Linked DNA regions of Homo sapiens: region 1 is linked to region 2. A link means that fine-mapping ties the variant in region 2 to the expression of a gene that starts in the linked region. Tissue or cell type: prefrontal cortex. Region 2 holds a variant in brackets; the other region holds the start of a gene. All regions are shown on one strand. Distances are between the middles of the regions.

The links. PIP is the estimated chance that this variant, and not a neighbour inherited with it, causes the effect.
Region 1: LINC02012 starts here. The variant in region 2 is the best candidate, but not a certain one, in a credible set for the expression of LINC02012 in prefrontal cortex (CommonMind, PIP 0.86).

The regions. Positions count from the first base shown.
Region 1 is chr3:197,508,001-197,510,717 of GRCh38, forward strand. It overlaps LINC02012 (long intergenic non-protein coding RNA 2012), which reads right to left and starts at 1,661. Exons shown (of 1, transcript NR_145451.1): 1 at 1-1,661. BDH1 (3-hydroxybutyrate dehydrogenase 1) reads right to left here. Exons shown (of 8, transcript NM_203314.3): 8 at 1,783-2,717. RefSeq lists a silencer at 198-492.
Region 2 is chr3:197,479,659-197,482,470 of GRCh38, forward strand. No RefSeq gene overlaps it. Among named protein-coding and RNA genes, the nearest start is that of LINC02012, 29 kb to the right of the region's middle. The variant T/C (reference allele first, on the strand shown) is at 1,336.

The DNA of each region.
Region 1 (2,717 bases), 28 kb after region 2:
TGCTTGGTCTTTGAATTCCTAGAGCCTGCTCTCGGGAATGGCCTTGACAGAGCCGACTTCCCGCTGGAAGGATACTGGGGGCTCCTCCAGCACATTCTCTCACAGGGGGCAGCACTTAGAGCCCAAAACGGGAAGGGAAGGAGGGTCTGGCTCGAGTGGCAGGACCCCATGGTTGCTACTGTGCGTAGGCTGAGAGTCTCCTCGCTGTTACGTAACTGAGGACTTCTTCCCTCCCTATTTTAGATCCTGCTGCCATCTGCCCTGATTTTCCGCATCACCAGCTCTGGGCTGGAGGTTAGATCTGGCTGGACACCCAGCTCTACCCCTCACTTGGTGACAGACTTGGGAAAGCCTGTTTCTGCAAAATAAGATAACCCCACCCTGCCTATCCTGCCTGGGTTGCTGTGAGAATCAGGTGAGAGGAAGCTGTGGTGGCTGGGTAGCAGGACCTGCACTTGGCCCCTGTGCCTGGTTGCTGTCTGGCCAACCCAACCTGGGGCTGCCTGAGCCAGGGGAGCCTCTGCTTGCTCATGTCGGCTCCTATATCAACACAGTTTGCACAGGTTTGCAGAGCCAGGCCCTGTTCGAAATACAGGCAGTGAACAGACCTCACAAATGGGGAGTCTTTGTCAGACCCCCTGCCATGGGTGGCAAGGGTGCAGACCTAGCAGCTTGTGACAGGCGGGGCCAGGCTGGCTGTCACCTGCTCACACAGCCTCTTGGCCCCGGGTGGAATGCTAAGCACAGCAGGTGCTCTGTAACAAGGCACTGTCAGGCGCATCTTGCAAGAAGCCCTTGCCCAGCCTCCAACCATCAGGGGATGGGTTTGTGCTGGCTGGAGTCACCAGACCATAGGTCCGCACAGGCAAAGGCCTCCTTCCTACTTACTCTGACAAGAAGGAGCGGCTCTCTGCCAGCAGACAAGCAGTGAGGGTCTAGGTGCCTGGTGACCCCAACTGGCTTTGCTTCCAGGGCTGTTGCGAGCCACAGTGTTATGTGATAGTGAAGAGTGCCACTCAGGAGACTTTTGTTCTGGCCCTGGTCCTGCCGTGGATTTACTGTGACACTGAGTGAGTCACTTTCCTTCTTTGGGCCTCAGTTATGTCATCTATAAAATGGGAATATACACCTGTTTTGTCCTCTCACTCTTTTTTTGTTTTGTTGTTGTTGTTTTGTTTTTTGAGACAGAGCCTCACTCTGTTGCCCAGGCTGGAGTGCAGTGGCATGATCTCGGCTCACTACAACCTCTGCCTCTGGGTTCAGTCGATTCTCCCTGCCTCACCCTCCCGAGTAGCTGGGGTTACAGGCGCCCACCACCACGCCTGGCTAATTTTTGTGCTTTTAGTAGAGACAGGGTTTCACCACGTTGGCCAGGCTGGTCTTGAACTCCTGACCTCAGGCGATCCGACCGCCTGGGCCTCCCAAAATGCTGGGATGACAGGTGTGAGCCACCGCGCCCGGCCACGCACTCTGGTAAAGACGAAAACTACGTCCTGCGCCCCGGTAGGTTCTAAGCTGCCGGAAAGTGAATGGTGAATATGAGGTTTGAGTTAGCACTGGAGTTATTTGGAGGGATGGTAGCCTGGGCTTTTCAATCACTGGAAACGATTAAAAGCCAGAACAACCTGCACAGGCCGGCCCAGCAGTTCTAGCTTACTCAGAAGATCCCAGTAGACGCACATGCAGCTTCTCTGACGTTCGGGTCTGCTGATGGGGACCCAGAGTATGTGGCCCTCCTTCCTCTAGTTCCCAGGCAGGGACGCACACGTGCAACTCCAAGGCTCCATCTATTTTCCTTTAATAAACTTCAGCACGGACACAAATTCGCCCAACATGTAAAAGTGCAATTCCGAAAGGATCCTGCTAGAACAAGGTCCACGGTACAAAAGCATCCTATGGTTATGTAACTGCAGCGGCCACCAAGCGTCCCCCTCTGGGCTCTGGAGGGTTTCGGCCCTGCCTGCCTCCCCCCCTCCTCCTGGGGCAGCTGGGACAGGGGACCCCTGTTTGAAGACAGCGGGGACAACGGCCCGGGAGGCAGCTGAATTGCCCATTGTGAGGCCCTTCTTCCTTGGCACTGCCTGAACCCCGTAGCCCACTCCGGCTGCCCGGGCTCTTCTGCCTTCTCCTGGCACCAGCCTCCGGGCCCGGGCCAGCTGCTAGGAGAGCGAGAACACTGTTTCTGAAGGGTGCTGCTTGCTTCTTTGTTCCCGGTTTCCGAAGCGCGAATCCCGAACGCCGTGAGAAACCTCAGGCTCGGGCGGCAGCGCGGGAGTCTGGGGCGCTGGAGGCCGGCGCCGGCTGCGGAGGAGGAGCGCCCTCTAGCGGCAGGTCCGCCCAGGGAGAGGCGGAAACGCGGAGTCTGATTCGAAGGCGGGCACTGGGGACCCTGCCCCGGGCCGAAAGCCCCCTGGAGGACAGTGGTGTTTGGCTTCGGTCCCAACATACAGGCCCTGGGCAGTCGCAGGGATGGCAGCTTTCAAACTGAAACCCAAGAAGTGATCATGCAGACCCTGCCTCAAGTGGCATCACTTCTTAATTGAAAAGAGGCCGAGGCGAGGCGGGAATGAAGGCCACGCTGAAGCCCTGCAGAACAGGGGTGTGTGTGTGTGTGTGTGTGTGTGTGTGTGTGTGTGTGTGTGTGTGTGTGTGTGTGTGTGTGTGTGTGTGTACATGTGTGTAAGGTGTGTGTGTGTGTGTGTGTGTGTGTGTGTGTG
Region 2 (2,812 bases):
CCTCGATTCCTCTCTTTCTCACATCTCCACAGCCAACCTATCGGCAAGACCTTCTGGCTCAGCCATCACAAGGTATCTCGAATCTGTCCACTTTCACTCCTTCTTCATTGCTGCCATGTGCTTCCAAGCCACCAGCATCCATTCAAACAACTCAGTTAGGTCTGTCCGTGGCCACCCTGGCTCTATGACAACCCATTTTCCCATACAGCATCCCGAGACCCTAGGCGACCTGGCTGCTGTCTACCTCTCCCACAATGAGCTTCTCTTCCTTCAGGTAAGAACTGGAATGTTACATGACCCTGTTCAATTTCATCAGTGTACTTAGAAGAATCAGCCATTTTAATACTCGTTCATTTGTGTTTGTTGTCACGCCTCCCTCATTTGATGAGGGTGGACCATGTCTTATTCTCTGCTAATTTGCCAGTTTGCATGTATGTTCATTTCCCAGGACACAGTAACAAAGTACCACGAACTAGGTGGCGTAAGATGATAGAAGCTTAAGCCAGGCATGATGGCACGCATCTGTAGTCCCAGCTACTCAGGAGGCTGAGGCAGGAGGATCTCCTGAGCTCAGGAATTTTAACTTAAAAAAAAATTTATTTCTTGCAGTTGTAGAGGTTAGATGTTGGAAATCAGGGTGTTGGTGGAGCCATCCCCTCTCTGAAGCCTCTAGGGTAGGATACTTCCTTGTCTCTTCTAGCTTCTGGTAACTGCAGGCTTTCCTTGGCTTGTGGCAGCATAAATCCCATCTCTGCCTCCATCTTCATATGGCAATCTTCCCTCTGTATGGATGGCTCTGTCCCTTCTCCTCTTCTTATGAGGACGCCCAACCATATTGGAGTCAGGCCCGCCCTGCTCCAGCATTACCTCATCTTAACTTGATTACATTGGCAAAGACTGTATTTCCAAATAAGACAAATTCACAGGTACCAAGAGTTAGGGCTTTTGGCGGGGATACAACTCAACCCATAATAATGTAGCATAGTAGACCTCAAAAACCATTTTAGAAATGAAGGAACAGTTTCAGTCAATAAAAATACAGTGAGCTCACTTCCAGAGCAGCAAATACAAGAACTTGGGGCTCAACATGCAGGTAGAAGGAAGACTGAGACTGTATAAAGCCTAAGCAACTCACTGGAAAGGGACATCCAAAGTAACCAGTTATTTGGCATTGCACGATTTTTTAGGCTCTTAGAACTGAATTTAAAATTTTTCCTAGTGATCTCAAAACACTAGCCATCAAGGCAGCCTGTAGCTTATAAATGCCTCTAACGATACCCTGTCTTTGGCTCTTCACAGAGGAGTGGGCATGTGTAATGGCTGAAGATACAAAAA[T/C]GCTGAGAAATGATGTGACTTTCCTAGGAAATGGCAGGGCTGGGATGGGGACCCAAGCTAGGCTGACTCCAGAACTTGGGTATTCAGAAAGGAAAGTGATTCTATACATAGATTCCATTAAACACACACACACACACACAAACACACACACACACACTACAAAAAAAGACTCTGTGATGAGGACCCTGTCACAGAACCCAAGAAGGATGAAATCTCAGGGGTGAGATTAAGTCTCAAATGACTTTAAGACAAAGCAGAACGTCCTAAGAGTGTCGCCACAAGTTCTAATGAAACTCAGATATGGGACTGTAAGTCTGTCTAGCTATGACCCTTAGGGAGAGCTTCATGGCAAAGGAAGGTGCGGAGTGGGGGAGGGAGATCTCTTTGATCTGGGTCTGGAGGGGAAAATGCAAATTTCACAGGTGAAAATGCATTCTGAGAAGAGGAAATAGCTTGAGCAAAGGAGATAGAAAGGATAAGATATATTTAGAAATATGGGGAACAGAGGAAAACATGGGCAAAAAGTGAGTTGGGACCATCAGCTGATTCTTCATGAGGACCCTTTAATGGGAGTAACACTGGTTTGGGGTTCCAGCCCCAGCTCAGGTCCCCCCGCCCTGGGCCTCTGGGCCTGTTTTCTCATCTGTAAATGAGAGCGTTTCCCAAAGATGCTAAGTGGGGCCTCATGTTCTTCAGAAAAGCTGCTTTAATAGGTTTTCCCATTCAACTGCCTGGTAAGACTTCATCTTAATGGCTGGCCAGGTGCGGTGGCTCACGCCTATAATCCCAGCACTCTGGGAGGCCAAGGTTGGTGGATCACCTGAGATCAGGAGTTCGAGACCAGCCTGGCCATCATGGTGAAACCCCCATCTCTACTAAAGATACAAAAAATTATCGAGGCATGGTGATATGCACCTGTAATCCCAGCTACTCGGGAGGCTGAGGCAGGAGAATCGCTTGAACCTGGGAGGCGGAGGTTGCAGTGAGCCGAGATCGTGCCATTGCACTACAGCCTGGGCAACAAGAGCAAGACTTAAAAAAAAAAAAGAAAGAAAGAAAAGAAAAAAAAGAATGGTTTTCATGCCTTAGAAATGTCTAAAAGCCATTGGTCTCAATAAACAAATTCCCTCTAACTGTATAATCCTATTTCTTTCTGCTGTAGGCCTGAGCGTTTGTCTGGTTTGTTATTCAAATGAAGCATGACTCATTTAGGATTTACCAGCTTGCTCCGAATTGTCTGTGGCTGTATTAAGTCATTTGACCTGTTTCCAGTGGAAAATCCATTTTTATTTACATCCTTAGGTGAAAGAGCCTGATGGGGCCAAAAGAGTGCTAGGGAGCAAGTCCGAAGCCCTGGCTCCGTGCTGTGATAACAAACATCATTCATAAAGAAGTATAGACCAAAGAATATTTGAATACATGCTAACTAGCAACACCATCTTGGGCAAGCCTCCTTGTCTCTCTGACCCATCCCTCA